5 separate regions of the Homo sapiens genome follow, and regions 2, 3, 4 and 5 are each reported to be linked to region 1. Evidence: microRNA targets listed by miRTarBase, many of them from high-throughput screens and not tested one by one. Region 1 holds a microRNA gene; each other region holds the end of a gene's coding sequence.

Region 1 (3,000 bases):
GGGCCGCTCGGACCGGGCGGAGAGGAGTAAGGGCAGCGCTGCCTAAGTGAGGCAGCGAGAGCCCGCGAGAGGGAAGCAGGGCCCGGGAGAGAAGGGTCACTGCCGTGGCCAGGGAGGGAGGAACGCACAGCATGGTGGACGGCTGGGAGCTTTAGGAGGGGGCACTCCGGGACGCGTGGTGGTGGCGTCTGGAGGAAATGGAGCTAAGCGGGTGGGGTCCTGAGGTATGTGGAAGGGGCACCGAGGTATGTGGGAGAGGACGTTGGAACGTGGGCGGGGGAGTTGGACACGTTCTGTGTGGGCCGTTATGTACTTAAGAGGCAGATCGGGCGTGGCACGGTGGCTCACGCCCGTAATCCCAACACTTTGGAAGGCCGAGGCGAGTGGATCACAAGGTCAGGGGTTCAAGACCAGCCTGGCCAAGATGGTGAAACCTCGTCTCTACTAAAAACTACAAAAATTAGCCGAGCGTGGTGGCGGGCGCTGTAACCCCAGCTACTCAGGAGGCTGAGGCAGGAGAATCGCTTGAACCCGGGAGGCGGAGGTTGCAGTGAGCCGAGATCGCGCCATTGCACTCCAGCCTGGGCGACAGAGCAAGACTCCGTCTCAAAACAAAAAAGGGGGGGGCAGAGAGTAGGTGGGGTGACAGAATGGGATTTACGGACACAGAACTATCCTTTGGGGAGCAGAGTGGTATTGGGGACAGGTAGGCACGTAGCGGGGGGCAAAAGCACACGTGAGGTGCGTAATGCGCGACAGCCAAGAGGTGTGTGCGGCAGCAGTGCACGAGGGGAGGAAGCTATCCCAGGCCGCGGCAGCACGTGGAACTTGGGTCCCGCAGTCGCAGGCTGCGCTCTAGGCCGACGGAAGCAGTTCCGCCTGTATTCAGAAAACAGTTCTCAGCCCCAAAGACACAGGTTGGAAAGAACACTTTAAAAACACTTCGGCGAGGCACGGGATTGGAGCGCATCAGATCAGCAGGCGAGAGACCACAGCTCTCGCCCGCGCGCCGCGCGGCGCCCGAGGCGCAGCTTTGTGTGCGGCGAGACCCTGGGGCAGGCGCTGGGCGGGGTGGGGACATCTGACGTCAGCGCGCCCGGGAGCGCGGGCCGGGGAGGCGGGGAGCCCCCCAACTCGCAGGCCGGAGAAAACACGAGTAGCTAGGTGGGCGGCCCCAAACCTCAACTCCCGGCATTGCCAAGCAACAGCCATTCAGTTCGGTTGCTGGGACACGCGTCACCATGGCGACGGCTCCGCGCCGCGCAGTCTGAGTACTTAAAGAGCAAGCGCGCGCAACGCCCGGGCGTCGGAAAGCGGCCTTCTGGGACTCCGCAAACTCCCGTTCTCCCTCCCCCCTCCCCCTTGCCATTCCCTTTGCCTTCCGGGCGCCAAGTCTCTCTGGCCTCCAAGGTGAACCCAACTCCCCAGCGCGCCCCGGGTTCCCGGGTCGGGCCGGCTTCAGGCGGTGGGGAGCGGGATCCCGGGCCCCGGGCGGGCGGGAGGGACGGGACGCGGTGCAGTGTTGTTTTTTCCCCCGCCAATATTGCACTCGTCCCGGCCTCCGGCCCCCCCGGCCCCCCGGCCTCCCCGCTACCCCTAGCGGGGCAGCCCCCGCCCTCCTGGCTCTCCATCCCGGCGGATCTTTGATAGACTGGAGTGTCGCCGCTGCCACCGTGAGTAAGTGGGTCTGGGAGGACTTCGGGCATCCTCCCTCAGGCACCCTATCCTTCACTTAACTCCATCCAGCACCTCCCCCACCCGCATCCCCAAATCAGCCAAACTTCCCCTAGATCCCTAACTTCCACCCTCCCAGGCTTTCTCTTCTACTCGCCGATTCCTTCCACTTCCCCACCCTATCCCGGAAAATCCCTAAAATAAGCAGTTGCACTGGCTTAGAAAACAACCAAAACTTTATGGCAATGTGCTGTCATCTTTCCTGGGGTTAGTGCCTGAGTAATACCCCTTGAAAACTTCTCATCCCCTGAAGGGTGGGGTGACCACCCCTCTGGGACTGAACTCCTTTTGGGAGCCAGAGAAGGGTCTGTGGTTGGCTGAGGGGCTGTAGCTTAGACCTCAGGGTCTCCAGGATGGACCCCAAGGCCAAAGGGTCTAAAATTCTGAATTCTGAATCTGGTGGCCTCCTCCTCACACCCTTCCCTGGAGCAGCTGCCTCCGGAATGGCTCAAAGTCCTCAGGCACTGTGTCTGAAGAAGGGGAAATAAGTAAGGTCAGAGGATGTGGCTCTCCCACAAGGCATGAAGGATTAGGTTGATCTCAATCAGCCACCTCACCATTGCATCGATACTGGAGATTGGACCAAATTATGTTTTCTTGGGAGAAGCAGAATACACCAAGACGCCCCCCTCGCATGGATGTGTCAATGATCACCCCAGAATCCGCCACAAGCTGGGGTCCCTCATAGAGCTTCACCCTGTCCAGGATTCCAGGATAGGAGTATCCATTGGTGCTAGGGTGCCAGTGGGCACTGTGCCACCATGCCTGGGGCCTTGCTTTTCCCCAGCCCCCCTTGAGCTCACCAGGCCTGAGAGAGAAGGGAGGGAGGGAAAGGGAGGCAGGAAGGAGAGGGAAGGGGGGTGCTTTTCTCAGGCCTGGGGCCCCTAGCTCTTTGTCCAGCTCCTTTTGCATCTCAAAGCACCAGCCGCATTCCAAGCGAGGATTGGGTTGCCATGACAATAAGCACAATGGGCTGGGGGGTGAAGTCACCCGCTTCCCAGGCTCTAGTCCACCCCCTTTTATCCCCTGTCCTGGCACCCCACAGCCCCAGGCACCTTAAAGGGGAACCAACCCAGGTTCCTGGACTCTGGGCTCTTGGCCATGGAAAGTCCAGCCTCTAAGCAGACCCATTTCCCCTCCCTTCCTGTTCATCTCCACCAACTAGGGCTACTTGTTGGAGAGAAATGCAAAGTTGTGGACAAAGTGTTGAACCGAGGCCTGTGAAGTCAGGGCCTTGATTTTCTCTTCTGTAAATGATGATGCCTT
Region 2 (3,000 bases), not on the chromosome of region 1:
TGACCACCAGTCCTACCAAGGACACCCTGCCTTAAATCCCAAGAGGAAACAAAGCCCAGCTTACATGAAGGAGGATGTCAAAGCTTTGGATACTACCAAGGCTCCTAAGGGCTCTCTGAAGGACATCTACAAGGTCTTCAATGGAGAAGGAGAACAGATTAGGGCCTTCAAGTGTGAGCACTGCCGAGTCCTTTTCCTAGACCATGTCATGTACACCATTCACATGGGTTGCCATGGCTACCGGGACCCACTGGAATGCAACATCTGTGGCTACAGAAGCCAGGACCGTTATGAGTTTTCATCACACATTGTTCGAGGGGAGCACACATTCCACTAGGCCTTTTCATTCCAAAGGGGACCCCTATGAAGTAAAGAACTGCACATGAAGAAATACTGCACTTACAATCCCACCTTTCCTCAAATGTTGACATACCTTTTATTTTTTTTAATATTATTACTGTTGATAATTCTTATTTTGTGGAGGCAGTGTCATTTGCTCTGCCTAATTACGATAAGGAAGAAACAGAAGAGAGAAGGGGCGGGAATATTGTTTCTTTATCACCTGGCTTGTTTATTTTGTGGGAATTTAAGAGCAGTCCATTTCTACCAAGGCATATCATGCTTTGAAAAATCACTTGATTCATAAAGATTCACCTAAGAGATTCTGATTTGCCACTGATATTCAGAATTATGATGGAAGACAGGAAAGTTCAGAGTTTTCTGGGTAGGACTTTGGTGGTTTAAAAATGGTATAAGTAACTTTATTCTTGAAAGAAGAATGTGTTTCAAACTGTAAACCAATTTTTTGTTCTTCAGAGATCATGGAACACAAACACATTGTTATTTTCAGTGATAACTCCTAAGAGGAGCTGAGTTGTTGTGGGTTCTATGTTTACTTCCCCTATGGAATTTATAATTCAGTATGTTTTACACTGTACCATATAGCAAAACTTTTAAACTACAGGTAGTTAAGGGCCACCTACAATACATCTGAGGTCCTGTGATCTTATTTTTCTAAACGTAAGCACTGTTTTTCCATAGTTTTGATGACTGGCATTTTATAGACACCCTGGCAGCCTTACTTTTAACACCTTTAAGGAATAGTATTTTTATGTAGTTTTCAGAATAACATATGGTCTAAGAGTGGATAAAAGGCAGTCAATAATTTCTGGGAGGGACTTCTACTTTCATAAATTTGTTTGAGAGGTTTTCTTTTAAAGTTGTAATGTGATGGCAGCATAGTATATGTATTTGTTTCTAAAAGTATGCTTACGATTGTCACTTTATCAGCATTTAATCAGTGTTAACCAGTCAGCAGAAAAATATAATTATGCTAACAGTAGGGGGAGAAAACCCACTTAGAAATCCCTTTTCTGGTATTTCTCTTTTCACTAGTTTTTTTCAAGATGTGACCTCCCGGTGTTCTGTCCATAGTTCATTCATCCTTTACTCTTCGAGTAGAAGGTCTTAAAAGTCTTCCTGTCGGCTGTTTCTTTCAAAATCTCCTCAGAGCAATTGCTAATTTGGCCTGAATCTGGTAACTTGAACCCTGTAAGGTTACAGAACTAGGGCTATTTATTTTAGCATTTCTTCAGTAGTATTTACTACTCTTGTTGCAAAGAAAAGGGAATGGGACTTCTTTGTAACCTGTACCTTGGACAACAGATAAAAGAAACAAAAAAATAAGAAAGTTTACTTTTACCCTTCTTGGAGTCTAGAATGTGACAGAACCCCCAAAGGAAAGTCCTGCACATTTTTCTGTTTCCAAAACATTTAATTGTGTAAGTCCTTGTCAGAAATGAATCTCAATCCCTTAGTATAGAATTCCCCTTACATGGTATAGGTTGCCATATTTCATGTGCAGATTTTAATTTCATTTATGTGGGCGCTCTGTTTTTTCTTTGCAGTCCAGCCACATTAGAGGGGAGGAACCGAGTGATATTGATTCAAGTCATTTTAGGGGGACATACTTGGAAGGCAGAACTTGCTGCTTCTGTTTGGGGAGGACAGACCTGACTGTGACTGGATTATCTGATAACCATTTGTGAATACTGAAATTCTGTTAGGCAGTAACTGATAACTGCTCTAAAGGATCATTAAATAGGATGCTGAAATTATGTATCTTAATACAGTGTGGTATGAGAATTACCAAGTCAAGAGAATTGTGGACATAAGCAAGTTTGGCCCCAATACTGCTCTTAACTCATTTTCCAGCTTACTATTTGCTATTTAAATGGTAGGCACCAGCTAAGCACTTCTAAGCACTAACACAGCTAGAACTAGGCAAAAATGGTTAGAACTCAGCTCTCTTCTACTAGTCCCTGTCATAATTATTTTTGGGAAAATGTCCAAACTGCCCCCTTTAAATCTAAGGGAATGCACCAAAACAGAGATATATAGAATGTCAACCATTTCATTTTTTTTTTTCTGCATGCCTTGGTACATAGTGAACATACAACCTATTTAAAGATAAAGCATGTTTTTGAGACTCGCTCACCCCCCCCCACCCAACCACTCCCAAATAATAATTGGGATGCCATTTTTTTTCCTTTTGGATGAGGTAAATAATTTTAAGGTTCACAATTTTGTCTTTTACTGCAATTTAAGGAAACATTTGGATGTCAGTCAATATGTTCATAATTTTGGCTGTGTGCGAATTTCTGCTGGCATTATCTATGAATTTTCTTCCTACTTATTTTTTTTTCAGTATATGAACAATCATGTATCTACCTGCCCCAGGATGAAACTAAATTTAGGTGGACCCTAAACCTTATGAAGACAGTGCTGAGGCACTTTCCTTTTCTGATTTCATCTTTTTGGGAATCTGTTTTATTGAAGGTAGTTAGTAGTTGAGAGTGCATTTGCTACAAGCATATACTTGTATCTTCCTAGCTTCATGAGGAACAGAAAGAGGTGGATATGGCTCAGGGTGTGGCAGGGACAATTGAGGACAAAGTCAATTCAAATTTGTGGGTCAGAAAGAATTTTTGTGGACGTAGT
Region 3 (4,677 bases), not on the chromosome of region 1:
CCAGGGAAATGAAGATAAATATCCTAGAATAATGGGACTTTCCTCTCAAAGGACAATTGGAATCCCTTTTTTTTTTTTTTTTTTTTTTTTTTTTTGAGATGGAGTCTCATTCTGTTGCCCAGGCTGGAGTGCAGTGGCGTGATCTCTGCTCACTGCAACCTCCGCCTCCCACGTTGAAGCGATTCTCCTGCCTCAGCCTCCCAAGCAGCTGGGACTACAGGCACGCACCACCACGCCTGGCTAATTTTTGTATTTTTAGTAGAGATGGGGTTTCACCATGTTGGTCAGGCTGGTCTTGAACTCCTGACCTCAGGTGATCCACCTGCCTCGGCCTCCCAAAGTGCTGGGATTACAGGCATGAGCCACCATGCCCGGCCTTGGAGTCCCTTTGGAAGTTTGGTAACTCAAGGGTAGCTGAAATTCTTTGAAAAAAAGAAAAGATGAGGGGAAGTGGCTAGTGATTATTTCCTTTCCTTTTTTTTCCATAGTCACAGCATCAAAAAGTGTGGGTTTGAAGTCAGAAAAATCCAGACAGGTTTGTGTTTTGGCTTTGCCAACAATCAGCTGAGTGACAATGAGACAGTTATATAACTACTCATCCCTCCCCCCACAATGCATATATAGCTCCCAGCACCCCTAGAAGAGTCTAACGGACAGGAGGGGCTACTCCAAACAGGAAGGGAAGAAGAAATATGACAAGAGGAATGTAGAGGGGTGGATGGAAGAGAGGCCACAATTTTCTGACTTCATTCCTGTGCAGCTTGTTGGTGTCCCTAAGAACATTAGCCTTTGTGAGCAGGGAAATAAAGAGGATCAGAGATGAGACATTTCCAGATCAGCACAAAGTTTATTAGCCATTTCTGCTCAGAAGAGCCCCTTTCTGAACAGGACTGTTCCTCTGACATAACAGACAAGAAACAGCCACCTGTGCAGGGCCTTTCCTTTATATCTCAAGCTACATCAGGAGAACATCTTGGAGCAATGTCAGTTGCCCCCTGGGGTTCCCTGGGAATAGCTAAGGTGTGAGATTGTCCAGAGTCCTATGACAGACCTTCAAGGTTTTAAGTTCCACAGACTTGGACTTTGTCCAGGTCCACAACCAACGAATAGAAACCTTCCTTTCAGGTAAACAACATATTGTACAAAAAAGGGAGGATGATAACATAATAGAGAAAGAGCTAAGACCCATTGCTTCTCCTCTGTAAAAACACCAAACTTTATCCAATACTATAAAAAAGAAATTCCTGCTGGGAACAGTGGCTCACGCCTGTAATCCCAGCACTCTGGGAGGCCGAGGTGGACAGATCACTTGAGGTCAGGAGTTCGAGACCAGCCTGACCAACATGGAGAAACCCCGTCTCTACTAAAAATACAAAATTAGCTGGGCATGGTGGTGCAGATCTGTAATCCCAGCTACTGGGGAGGCTGAGGCAGGAGAGTCACTTGAACCCGGAAGGCGGAGGTTGCAGTGAGCCGAGATCACACCATTGCACTCCAGCCTGGACAACAAGAGAGAAACTCCATCTCAAAAAAAAAAAAAAAAAAATCCTGGCCAAGCACAGTGGCTCATGCCTATAATCCCAGCACTTTGGGAGGCCAAGGCGTGAGGATCACTTGAGCCCAGTTCAAGACCAGCCTGGGCAATATAGCAAGACCCTGTCTTTAAAAAAAAAAAATAGGGCATGGTGGCGCATGCCATGGTGCTAGCTACCCAGGAGGCTGAGGTAGGAGGATTGCTTGAACCCAGGAGGTTGAGGCTGCAGTGAGCTGTGATTGCACCATTGCACTCTAGCCTGGGCAACAGAGTGAGACCCTGTTTAAAAAAAAAAAAATCCCCAGCAATCCTACCATCCCCAGCCTCCAGGAGTGATCTGTCTCCTAAGCATTGAGAAAGTGGAGACTAGGTAGCATAAACTAGTGTGCAAAGCTTCACACTCACATTAGATTGGCAGGATCATTTTATGGGGGAGGAACAGGTACAGCCAGCTTAGGGGCAGAGTAGGGGAGGAGACTGGTAAGAAAAAGAGGTCTACTTCCTATCCATCCCTTTCTTCAGGGTAGAGTTTCACATGGTAGGCTAAGGCAGAAAGCTCTCAACCCCTGCAGGAAAAGAAGAAATTCAGGGCTTGAGCCAGGAGTAAAGGAAAGAAGAAAGCAAGTTATCCTAGACATGAAGGAATGGAAGAAAGAAATGGAGTCCTATCCTGTGTCTGTGCTCCCCACCAAGGGCCAATGCCAGTATGCACCAGTTTAGCCTAACCAACTATTAAAATGTTGAAATCCTTCCATACTGGAAAGAAGCCACTGCCCTGAGCCCTCCAAGTACCTGTCAACTGCCCTGGCCTGCCCCCAGGACCCCTATACCTCCCAGCACAGCAGGCAGCCTCCAGGATCCTATTTAGACCTATGGCTCAGCATCTGTTCTGATTCATTGTTGTCCCCTCTGTACCCATGTTATGCTTTCACCTCTCACCCCAATGGAGTCACACAGGCCTGAGTTTGAACAGTTAACACAGCTTGGAAGGGACACATGCCTGATTCCCATCCTTGGAGAACAATATCATGCTATGAGGAGTAGGAAGGGCAAGAGATATGAAAAGAACAGAGGAAATGTGGTTCCTAGAAGTCAGAAGGCATCAAGGGTCCATCAGTGTAGAAGTGGCTGGGGCGGGAGACGTAAACCTCATCCACGGTGTTCTGGCCAGCCAACAGTGGGTCACCATTCGGCATGATTTCTTCAATCTTTACACAGTTTCTGAAGACTAGGTAATCCAGAGAGAAAAGTGAGGCCCCGATCTTAGTTAGGAGTTCCCAACCCAGCAGGGAAAGGGAGGGAGGATGGCAGGAAAGGCCTGGGAAGAGCCTGAGTGGGAACTTGTGGGATGAAAGAGCAGGGAGGTGGGGGAAGGCATGTGTAATTCCTAAAAAAAGGAATCACAGAATGGACCTCTCTCCAATGAGGAGCTTGGAGTTCAGCTTTTTCTGTAATGGGAGAGGGAGAAGAGGTAGGAAAGGGAATGTGTGCCATCTTCCATAGCTCCATCTCATCACTTACTTTCCATTGGCTCAGTGTTCAAATGTCTCAGATCACAGGGCAAATCTGGCTCTGGCACTGGCTGTGATACAGGTCCTTGGTCTGGCTCTGGCACTGTTTGTGATACCATGCATAGTGTGGGCTCTATCACAGGCTCCAGAGTGGACTCCAGCACAGACTCTAGCTCTGGCCCCAGATCCAGCCCTGCCTTCAGCAGTGGCTCTAAGTCCAGGCTGAGCTCTGGCTCTGGCACCAGCCCTAGTTCCAGCTCTAATGACTCCAGCTCTGGCTCTGGCTTAAGCTCCAGCGGTTGTTGCAGTTCATCCACCTGTCTGGATACCCAAAGACAGACAAAGGGGCAGGGCTCAGTGGTTCAAATGAAATCAGGAATGGTAGAATAAGCAGAAGCTAGTCTAAGAAGGCAGTAGGGCGGAGGGCTAAAGAGCATGGGTTTGGAATCAGGCCTCCTGGAGTTTGAATCCTGGCTGGGGGACCTTAGGCAAGTGGCCTAACTTTTCTGAGCCTCAGATTTATCATCTATAAATGAGAACAATACCTAGTAATTCTTGAGAGGCAGTAGGGTGGTTAAAATCAGGGCTACGGAATCTAACAGACCTGTATCATTAGCCACGTACCTTAGGTACAAAACTTGACTACTCTAAATCCAGTTCCTTAGCTGAAAACAGTAACAGTGTTTACTTCACAGGACTATTTTGTAGATTCAATAAAATGAGAAAATAAATGCAAACCATTTAGCCTAGTGCCTGGCGCATAATAAACTCTCAGGCCAGGCATGGTGGCTCACACCTGTAATCCAAGCACTTTGGGAGGCTGAGGCGGGCAGATCACTTGAGGCCAGGAGCTCATGACCAGCCTGGCCAACATGGTGAAACCCTGTTTCTACTAAAAATACAAAAGTTAGGCCGGGTGCAGAGGCTCACGCCTGTAATCCCAGCACTTTGGGAGGCCAAGGTGGGCGGATCATGAGGTCAGGAGTTTGAGACCAGCCTGGCCAATATGGTAAAACCCTGTCTCTACTAAAAATACAAAAATTAGCCAGGTGTGGTGGTTGTGCGCGCTTGTAGTCCCAGCTACTCAGGAGGCTGAGGCAGGAGAATTGCTTGAGCCTGGGAGGCAGAGGTTGCAGTGAGCTGAGATCGTGCCACTGCACTCCAGCCTGGGCAACAGGGCGAGACTCTGTCTCAAAAAAAAAACAAAAATTAACCAGGCATGGGTGGCGCTCGCCTGTAATCCCAGCTACTCAGTAGGCTGAGGCAGGAGAATTGCTTGAGCCTGGGAGGCAGAGGTTGCAGTGAGCTGAAATTGCACCACTGCACTCCAGCCCGGGCAATGAGAGTGAGACTGTCTCAAAAAAAAAAAAAAAAAAAAAAAAAATTCTATCCCCAGCCAAGTGCCATGGCTCATTCCTACAATCCCGGCAATTTGGGAGGCCAAGGCAGGAGACTGCTTGAGGCCAGGAGTTCAAGACCAGCCTGGGCAACACAGTGATACCCCATCCCTACAAAAAATTTAAAAAATTAGCTGAGTGTGATTGAGTGTGATGGCGTGTGCCTGTAGTCTCAGCTACTTGGGAGGCTGAGGCAGGAGCATTGCTTCAACCCCTAGGTCAAGGCTGCAGTGAG
Region 4 (5,024 bases), not on the chromosome of region 1:
GGGCTCTCACCATATCCTGTAGCAAGGCACAGGGGAACTGTGGTGAGCCCACTTTGCAGGGGAGCAAGGGGAGGCCCTGGGCAGGGACTAAGCTGAGCTCTGAATCACTGGGGGACTTGACTGATGCCCGGGCGCTCTCCACCCTAAAGGGAGCCATCTCTGAGACTGCACCCCAGGCAAGGGGTGGCGGAAAGGACAGCCACCTGGGTGGGGACCGCTCCAGTCTCTAGCCTGCTTTGCATGAGCATTGGAGCGGACAGACCTGGTTTGAGCGCTTTCTGTCTCGTGAGCTCCAGTGAGCCCCTTGGCTCCTCTGAGCCTTGATTTCCTCACTGTGCTTTGCCCTGGGAAACAGCTGTTCTCAAAGGTGCTCTGCCACCCCAGGCCCTTGCTCCTTTCCCTGGGTAGTTCTCCCTGCCTGGCGGGACTCACCACCAGGCTTCACCTCCACCAGGAAGCCTTCCCTGATCCCTATTGGGTATCCTCCTTGGCGATTGCCTTTTTCACGGGCAGTGGCCCCTGGACGCAAGCGTGTGCCCAGTGTGGTATAGCACCTGCTCAGAGTGGGGCCTGTGAGTGGCTGAGGAATGAGACATGGATTGCTTGTGTGACAGAGTGAGCTGTAGGGAGATGCTGGATGACCACGGATTGTGGTCGTGGTCAGGGATGCCCACCTTGGATGGGAGTTTAGGCTCATGATGGACATCACAGACAACAGGAAGGGCTTGGCACTTGGGACCCAAGGCCTGGCCTGGGGCTGCTGCTTGTGCCCACATCTGATAGGGCCTTGTCATCATAGCTGCACAACGTCACCCTGGCGCTGGAGCTGCTGAAGGACGAGGGCCTGCTCAGCTGCCCTGTCAGCCCTGAAGGTGAGTGCAAGGCAGATGCCCACACGGTGGCCAGCCCTGGGTGGCAGCCTTGTGCGAGAGCCACAGAACAGGGTGCAGGGCATTGGGGGATGAGCACGCATTGGCAGAGTCCTCTTGCCTGGCAGGGGTGGAGAATGGGCGCTTGCCAAGGTTTCTTGGGAGGGGGCACTGCAGCCCCAGGGGAAGAGGTTCTGGGGAGGGGGAGACCAAGGTCTCTGGGGACAGGTTGTCCAGAGAAGCCAGACCTTGAGGAGTTGCTGTGTTGGGGGCACCACAGGAGCATTCAGAGGAGGACTGGCCAGGAGGAGGAGGCAGTCACGCAGCAGGCGCGGGACCCAGGCCTGGAGTGACCAGCTGTCCTGGCTTCCAGGGATTCTCCTGGGATTAGCACTGAAATCCTGAATGCCAGGAAACCTTGACCACATCGGGACAGTCGGTCACTGCCACCCAGGCCTGACTGGCTGCCCTGCCCTCCTTTGGCCCGCAGATATCGTGAACAAGGATGCCAAGAGCACACTGAGGGTGCTCTATGGTCTGTTCTGCAAGCACACGCAGAAGGCACACAGGGACAGGACGCCCCATGGAGCCCCGAATTGACCCTCACTGCCTCCAAAGCCCAGAGCCTGCCTGTCAGCCCAGCTGGAGGGCCCGAGGCTGCAGGGTGTCCTCCCACAGTCCCGCTGTTTCCTGTGCATTCGTGACCCGCTTCCCTCCCACCCTGTCTCCTGTCTCCATCGTTGGATTATCTTTGAACCCCCTTGTGTGGATCATTTTGAGCCGCCTGGCCTTGCTCAGTTTATTTTAATAAAAGTATTTCTGGGAGGGATTCTGGGAACTTGACAGGGTCCTGAGGAGGGCCCTTAAACCTGCAGCCTCCCTCCCATGGGGTGAGTGTGTGTCACATCAGTCTCTCATCTCTGGGCCCAGGCTAGTGACCGCCCAGAGAGGTGGCATCACTCAGGGCTGGGGACTCTCAGGGACAGGGCCCACAGCCCCAGACCCCACCTTTTCCAGCCCAGCTCCCCACACCCACCTGCTTCTCACTCGGGAGGATGGGCCCCAGAGTCACCCTCCAGGGCAGGAGCCCGAATGGCTCCATAGCCATGCCCCCACCCACCGGGAGAAGTGGATTCAGTGACTGTCAAAGCAACCCGGGCTGTGTCCTGCAGCTGCCCTCGTGAGTTTTGCCCAAAAGTCACAAAGAAGCAATCTTCGTGGTTGATTAGTGGGTTCAGGTCATCTCCAGTCTGTCCTCGGGAGCTGTGGGTTCCCACTCGCTCCAGTGAGACTTGGCATTTTCTGCACATAAAGAAGAGTCGTGTGGGAGAATTGCACATAGTCAGTCCAGGGCATCCAGAGTGGGGCAGAGCTGATGGCTGATGGGAACCGGGGAGGAGGCTGGCGGGGAGGGGTGAGATTGGTGGGGAGGGCTGGGGCTGGCCGGGAGGGGTGGGACTGATGGGGAGGGGTGAGGCTGGCGGGGAGGGGTGAGGCTGGCGGGGAGGGGTGGGACTGGTGGGGAGGAGTGAGGCTAGTGGGCGGGTGAGGCTGGCGGGGAGGGGAGGGTTTGTGGGGACGGGTGAGGCTGGCGGGGAGGGGTGAGGCTGGTGGGGAGGGCTGGGGCCTGGTGGGGAGGAGTGGGACTTGTGGGGAGGAGTGGGACTTGTGGGGAGGGGTGAGGCTGGGGAGAAGGGCAACCACAGCCCCAGGCTGCTGCTCCTCCCTGGACCCTGAAGAGGCCTCTGGGTCTGGGGTTTTCACAGTTTGACAGCTGAGGCCTTGGGGAGGGGCTTTAGATGGGGGTTAGGGGCTAGGTCATCATTGACACCCACTGGGGGCGCCTAGGCAGATGTCCTTCGGGGGAGCAAGATGGGAGCCAGGGACGCAGTGCCAGGTCAGCCCTGGGAGCTGGTGTCTGGGTGTGAGAAGGCCTTGAGGGGTCTTCCCTTCACCTAGCCTCCCATCTGCCTGCCCTTCTCAGCTCCCAATTCACAGGGCAAACCCAAGCCCATAAGCGTGTTCCACGTGAGCACTCAGATGCACCCCTCTTCATGGATACCCACCCTACTTCCCGGCTGCCTCTGGGAAACGTGCATCCTCCCACACCAGGTACCTGGAGCCCAGCTCCTTCCACCTGCTCAGGTGCCCCCTCCATTGCGATGCCCCCTCCAGCACCTCAAATCCTCTCCTGGAGCTTCTGGGGACACAGGCTCAGCCTCTCTCAGCTGGCTTCATCCCAAAAGCCTGAAATCCAGCCCCACTTCCTGGGGCCTTTGAGTCCTCACTTGCTTGGGCCCCATCCGCTGCAGGCTGGCTCTGCCTGGCTGTTCCACGTCCTCACTCTTGTTCTATTTGACAGCAATTAAAAAAAAAGTGACTTATTTAATTACTGTAGCTTTATTGAAAAATAACTTCCCAGTTTGAAGTGTACAATTTGATGAGTTTTGACAAATGCATGCAGTCATATAACCACCACCATCGTTATCCAGACATGGGACATTCCCATCACCATGCAAGTTTCTGCATCTGTCTGCAGCCAGTTCCCTTCTCCCAGCCCCTGGCCCTGGGGACCACTGATCTGTTTTCTGTCACCATCATTTAGACTTGTCTAGAATTTCTTATAAACTGTATCCTATGGTATGTTGCTTTTTGTGTCTGATTTCTTTCACTTAGCATAATGCTATTGAGAGTATCTCCATTGTTTCTTGTATCAACAACTCATGTCCTTAGTACATTCAAAAATAAGTCCTCCAATTTTGTTCTTCATTTCAAAAATTATTTTGGTTTTTCTAGGTCTTTTTAATTCTTTTGGTTTCTACATAAAATTTAGAATCAGTTTGTCATTTTCTGCAAAAAAGCCTGCTGAAATTTTGACTGGAATTGTGTTCTTTAGATCAAACTGGGGAAAACTGACATCTTAAAAATATTGGGGAGCTAAGATCACTGATTTGAGAATATTTTTCTTTTATATAAATATTTAATGCTGGATTTTTTTTTCTAAGCACAGCTTTAGCTGCATCCCACAGATACTAATATGTTGTGTTTTCACCTTCATGAAGTTCAAAATATCTTCTAGTTTCAAATGTGACTTCCTCTTTCACTCATGGGTTATTTAGAAGTGTATAATTTCCAAATATTTTGGGATTTTTTTTCCAGCTATCTTTTGGCATTGGGTTTTGTTGTGGTCAGAGAACATGCTTTGTATGATTTAAATCACTTAAAATGCATTATGACTTGTTTTATGTACTGGATTATGGTCTATCTTGGTAAATATTCTGTATGCACTTGAAAAAGAATGTGTGCTCTGCTGTTGTTGGACAAAATGTTTCATAAATGTCAATTAGGTCAAGTGGGTTGATTATGTTGTTCAGATCTTCTATATCCTTGCTAATTTTCTCTCTACTACTTCTGTCAATTACCAAGACAGAAGTGTTAAAATCTTCAACTGTAACTGTACATTTCACTATTTCCCCTTTCAGTTCTATCAATTTTTGTTTCATACCTCATATAAGATTATAATGTCCTTTTGTCTCATTTATCCCTTGTAATATCTCTTACTCTGAAATCTGCTTTGTCTGATATTAATATAGCCACTCAAACTTTCTGTTAGTATTAGCATGGTATATGTTTTTCTATATTTTTAAACTGCGTCTGTTTAAAGTAGGTTTCTTATAGACACAAATAATTGTGTCTTTTTGTACAATCTGGAAACCTCTGCCTTTTAATTAGAGGGTTTAGTCCACTTACATTTTTTATTGTGGCAAAATATACATAGCACAAAATTAACCGTTTTAGCCATTTTAAGTGTACAATTCAGTGGCATTAAGTACATTCATACTGTTGTGCAACCATCACCTCCATCCATCTCCAGAACTTTTTCATCGACCCAAACTGAGACTCTGCACCCAGGAAATACTAACTCTCCATTCTCCCCTCCCTCAGGCCATGGTAACCACTATTTCTCCCCTCCCTCAGACCACGGTAACCACTATTCTACTTGCTGTCTCTGTGAATTTGACTATTCTAGGTACCTCTAGTCCATTTACATTTAATGGAATTATTAATGCCATCTTGCTGTTTGCCTTGTTCATATGTTTTTCTTATTCCTTTTGGATTGAAGACTTTTTAGCGATGTGAATTTATTTCCATTAT
Region 5 (5,024 bases), not on the chromosome of region 1:
CACACACACACACACACACACACAGACATATATACAGAATTTGGGTATTCCAATATTGTTATATTTAGGTTCTGGTACCACATTGAATGCCAGTTAAATAGCTTCCATTTGTGTCTCCTTGTTTCTACTATGACTATTAATATGGAAAGGCAGAACAAATAGTGCCATTAAATTTTTGTAAGATTTAAAATCAGAAAATCAGGCCAGGCACAGTGGCTCACGCCTGTAATCCCAGCACTTTGGGAGGCTGAGGCAGGTGGATCGCTTGAGGCCAGGAATTGGAGACCAGCTTGGCCAACAGGGTGAAACCCCAACTCTACTAAAAATACAAAAATTAGCCAGGTATGGTGGCAGGCACCTGTAATTCCAGCTACTCAGGAGGCTGAGGCAGGAGAATTGCTTGAACCCAGGAGGCGGAGGTTGCAGTAAGCCAAGATCACGCCACTGCACTCCAGCCTAGGTGACAGAGTAAGACCCTGCCTCAAAAAATTAATTAATTAATTAAATAAAATAAGAAATCTATTCTGGAAATCAGTCATCAAACACCACAATTTTGGGAATATAGTTTGGACGACCACTTCCTTTTCTGGAAACCATTTTTAGAATAAGAAAATGAGCCAGAATACACCTTGCCAAATAAGTTTCCCCAAATCACAATTATGATTTGGGGAATGAACACAAGAATGAACAAATTAAGTCATAAATGTATGCAATCATTTTTGAATGTCTTTGCAGAGAAATATTCAAAGTGGTAAGATGGATTGAACTGCCAACCAAAATTGTCAATCTTTATTTCAGTCTTCACTATTAAGCTAAAAAGGTAATTTTTCTCTTGAATGATGTGAAGAATTGAATTTCTTTCAACTGTTCCAAAAATCTGTAAGTACAATACTACCTAATCTCCTGTTATGCAACAGACTCCCATGTGGTACATCCAATTCATTACACAAAACACTGAATTGTCTGCAATGCAAGCCATGGAACACATCCAGTTTATGATATCAATGACTATATCCAGGATGCATTCCCGTTTTAAGGTTTTAGTATAAAGTCATTCGAGAATAGAATAATAAATGAACTTGGGTCCCACATCCTTGTAAAACATTATTAATTTAGATGGGCTGAATTTTTAATGCTTCTATTGGCTACCCACAAAAATGGGAAGTTTTGGCAAAGGAAAGGAGGAACGATTGAGGTAGAATTCAGTCAAGCAAGTACCTTTTAAAGCCAGATGGTAGATTTCTGACTGTGATTTCTATTACAGAAAAATCTGAATTTAGAGAACCTCTGTGGTTTTATCTCAACTTTAGCATATCTAAACATCCTGTTAAAAATCTTATTCTAAAGAATGGTATGATTGAGTAATGCAAATGGTCAGTATCTGAGTCGATGCAGAAAATAAAATATTAAGACATTTACCGTATATATAGGTGCTATCATTGTGGCAACTTCCACAATAACCTTTTAAGACTAATTAAGAAAATCAAATATAAAAAATATTTTTAACTACAAATAAATTATTTTTAAATTATACAGATTATTATATAATTATATGTAAAAAATAGTGCTTTATATTAAATAAGAACAAGTGATGAAGAAACAGGGCTCACCAGGTAAGTTTTAGGCTTCAGTTCAAATAGGAGAGAAAAGCATATATTCACTGCGGCATCCCTACTGAAGACATAAGTGCTTCCAAAATACACAGGGAGACTGGTCATCTTTCTTTTTCAATTGTTTCATCAAGAAGAATCTTTTTCAGGTGATAAAACTTACAAGCTAAATTAAAATGCACTCTACTCATTGGCAAGCTACATGAACAAGAATAATGTGATCACAGTACTTGGAAGTTTTTGATTTATAACTATACTATTCTCTACTTATAAGGCTGCAGTCTAGGAGGCAGAGCAATGAATCATTACAATTGTCTATCTGGGAAATGTCAAAAGATTAAGTAAGGGCAAAAGAAGAGAGAAAAGGAAAGAACACACATCTCTGTCCAAGAAATATTCCTCTATTAATGGAGGTATATCAGTAGCACATAAATCCAGTGCTAAATAAATAATAAGTACATTTTTAAAATCTTCAAGCAAAATCACTAATGAACCATAATGCTTAAACTTCCTTGGTGGAAAGCAGATGACCCTCTGAAGCTCTGATAACTAAATGATTCCTTATCCAACTATCATTTGGTAACCTACCCCTACATATTAAGCAATTTAAAAAGCAAATTTAAGTTGAGGAAATAATTAGATATTTGAACCAATCATGAATGGATCCAGCATTTTTGAAAAAGAACACATATAGTTTAATTGATACTTTGCCAATACAAAAATAAGCATCCACAGAATGTTTATTTACTGTTTAAATTACTCCATATTTTCATATACTGTGAACAGAAAATATATTTTACCCCACATATAGTAAAAGCAAACAAGTGCAATCTTTCAAACATTAAAATCATAATCAAATCTGTACAACAGATAAATAAATGTATACCTCTAACAGTTAGCTTGTAAAAAAAAATCAAACAAAAAGCAAAAACATTTATTGCCCAAATTCACCAGTTTACTTAAAATTCTACTTATGGTAATACAGCTCAATCGTAACAACTTGCATGTTTACTACACTGCACAAGTTTAGACTGATAAATATTTAAAATAGGAGGTGGGTAATAGGAAATACCAAATGGCTATAAAGAGCTTTCCAAATATTGGAAATAATATACGAAAATTAATTAGTGGGGATAACATATTAAATGGATCCACAGGGTAACTGGTATTACACTGGTATAGCTTGAGGAAAGGAAACAGGTGAACGTTTGGATTGGAAAAAAAATTTTGGCTTTTTTATAAAACGAAGCAACAATAACATCAACAATGACAAAACCCTGTCATGGAGCCTCAGAACTATTCTGTGAGACAAAGTGTACAAAGATTTAGGCTTGCATACCCGAAAACCACAGTTAGGAAGAAAAATCATTTCAGGAAACAACATCAGAACAAGAACACATATAAATTAAAGGCATACTGTTTATCATTCCACTTCATTGCACATATAAGAAAACAATACTGCCGTCATTCTTGAGTAAGAAAGTTTCCAATGAAAGAGGAAGTTCCACAATGAATACAGGTGCAGACAGTCTTATTACCACAAATTTAGTTATATCAAAACACTTGGTGGTGTCACTAAGTTAATTAAATTATCTATACTTTTTACTGGAAAGGTAATCATTTCCCTGCCTTCATATGTTAACTTAAAATCACTTACAAATGGAAATATAGATTCAGTAGAAAAGACTTCACATGCAATCCTATACAATGCATTCTGGTTTTTTGTTTGTTTGTTTGTTTTAGTATTTCATATTGGATATGTACATTTCCAATATATACAACCACATATGTTCAACAGATGTCACAGAACTGTCCTCTTGCCACAAACGTTTATATTTACATACACATTTATATCTCCAGATAGATGCTTTTCTCTTCTAGAGACACACAAAGGTAGCCTGAAGAGTTTAGGTTTTTTAGAATTTTTGGAACCTAATGTTTTGATTTATCTTGAATGGATGATAAGATGAGGAGTCCACAAAAAAATGCAGCTATACATGCCAACCTTTTCAAGAGAGATGAGTTATCTTTAGGAATAATAATCTGTGCAAGATCATTAGTGATCTGAGAAATTTCATGTGCCACACAAACAAATATGAAAGTGCTGACAATGATGTTGAGCATAGGGTTTCCAGGTATCAGTACCAAGATACCCCTTGTGTCCGCTGCCAGCCATATGTGATACTGGCAAATAAATAGCTAGGAGAAAAAATATTTAAGTCAGATATTTATAGAGGGTCCATGAATAAATTACAGTTTTCCCTAATTTAAACAATTTGGTTGCATAATAACATTAGAAGGCTTTCCTAAAACCATTTTATTCTGTCTCACTACTGGCCCTGAAAAGTCCACTGCAGTCTACTCCTTAGAACTCCAACTGCTAATACAATCTCTCTTATAAATGAGACCAAAGAAAATAATAGAACAATTATTCAAGAACTCAAAGAGGAATTTATTTTCCCTATTTTAAGAGACAATTTAATAAATCCTATACTCTAAAAACTCTAAAATATATGTTGTTATTACAATATAAATTGTTTTAAAACATTCTATTTCAAATAATAAAGCTTAGACTACTCAGAATACATTTTAAAACCTACTGTTCAAACTGATTTTGTAGATAATTTCATATTATGTATCTTACACAAAATGTAATGAGTTTATACTTTCTCCCACAATTTCCAATCATAATAAGGGTAAATTTTATTATGGTATGCATCAATAAACTGAATTCCAGTAATATATTTAATTATGGAGATGAACAAAAAATCAAAATCCCCTCAGTTTGATTTCATTTATATACCTGGTCTAATATTTTTCTCTCTTGGTCTCAGCATCTTGGTTGTGCTTGAAAGCTCAAGACAACGTAAATAATATTTTGCAAGTAATCTATATCTAGTCATTTAAAAATAAGGCTTAAAAACATTCCAAAATACTTTAGTATTGTTGAAAGTTCTAAGTCTTTTCCCTGTAATTCCATAATAGCTTCAGTTTAGAAAAAAGTACGTCCGATTTTCATACTCACATATATGTGTGATATTTACACACACACACGTACATACACAAACATGAAACACCTGGCTGTGTAAGATAAGCAAAATATTAATGTACCAACCTCTAATGAAATTTTTCCAAACCAAGCAAAAAATGAACTGTAAACTGAACGGGCATATCCAGGGATGTTTCTTATTAGGATGAAGGCTAAAATCTAAAGAAAAAGCACAAAAGCAAATATTAATAATCTCTTTATTGAAAAGTATTTTGTATAAAGCTTTCTTTTAAATGATAACCTTATTCTTTATGTTTGTGAACTTGACACATATACAACAGTCTTTTTATATTCTAAAAGTATTAGAAAGTTATTTTTGTTCTAAAGTCTACCCAAACTGGATTTCTCAACACATGGTCGGTATG

Evidence for each region. Region 1 holds the annotated microRNA hsa-miR-92b-3p (UAUUGCACUCGUCCCGGCCUCC, at 1,542-1,563, shown strand). A microRNA usually pairs through its seed, bases 2 to 8, with sites in the 3' UTR of a target mRNA and lowers its output. Matches are read on the target gene's strand: a 7mer-m8 pairs with bases 2 to 8, a 7mer-A1 pairs with bases 2 to 7 and ends in A, and an 8mer does both.
Region 2: the mRNA of IKZF2 is a reported target of hsa-miR-92b-3p. The part of its 3' UTR that is shown has no 7-base or 8-base seed match.
Region 3: the mRNA of STAT2 is a reported target of hsa-miR-92b-3p. Seed matches in the 3' UTR shown: 7mer-m8 at 1,781-1,787, 7mer-m8 at 1,773-1,779 and 7mer-m8 at 1,487-1,493.
Region 4: miRTarBase lists PARVG as a target of hsa-miR-92b-3p. The part of its 3' UTR that is shown has no 7-base or 8-base seed match.
Region 5: the mRNA of CASD1 is a reported target of hsa-miR-92b-3p. Seed matches in the 3' UTR shown: 7mer-m8 at 3,046-3,052.

Annotation. Positions count from the first base shown.
Region 1 is chr1:155,193,696-155,196,695 of GRCh38, forward strand. MIR92B (microRNA 92b) reads left to right here and starts at 1,482; the gene lies at 1,482-1,577. THBS3 (thrombospondin 3) reads right to left here. Exons shown (of 23, transcript NM_007112.5): 22 at 2,292-2,431; 23 at 1,893-2,204. The coding sequence ends at 2,146. THBS3-AS1 (THBS3 antisense RNA 1) reads left to right here and starts at 1,302. Exons shown (of 6, transcript NR_183238.1): 1 at 1,302-1,677. RefSeq lists a silencer at 985-1,314 and an enhancer at 2,471-3,000.
Region 2 is chr2:213,004,697-213,007,696 of GRCh38, reverse strand. IKZF2 (IKAROS family zinc finger 2) reads left to right here. Exons shown (of 9, transcript NM_001387220.1): 9 at 1-3,000. The coding sequence ends at 337. Among named protein-coding and RNA genes, the nearest start is that of MIR4776-2, 80 kb to the right of the region's middle.
Region 3 is chr12:56,340,770-56,345,446 of GRCh38, forward strand. STAT2 (signal transducer and activator of transcription 2) reads right to left here. Exons shown (of 24, transcript NM_005419.4): 23 at 3,056-3,366; 24 at 828-2,762. The coding sequence ends at 2,620. Among named protein-coding and RNA genes, the nearest start is that of IL23A, 4.2 kb to the left of the region's middle.
Region 4 is chr22:44,204,958-44,209,981 of GRCh38, forward strand. It overlaps PARVG (parvin gamma), which reads left to right. Exons shown (of 14, transcript NM_022141.7): 13 at 800-872; 14 at 1,360-3,512. The coding sequence ends at 1,469. Among named protein-coding and RNA genes, the nearest start is that of PARVG, 27 kb to the left of the region's middle. RefSeq lists an enhancer at 1-182.
Region 5 is chr7:94,554,277-94,559,300 of GRCh38, reverse strand. CASD1 (CAS1 domain sialic acid O acetyltransferase 1) reads right to left here. Exons shown (of 18, transcript NM_022900.5): 17 at 4,726-4,818; 18 at 2,282-3,809. The coding sequence ends at 3,543. It overlaps LOC105375404 (a long non-coding RNA gene), which reads left to right and starts at 806. Exons shown (of 4, transcript XR_007060433.1): 1 at 806-879. RefSeq lists an enhancer at 3,142-3,191.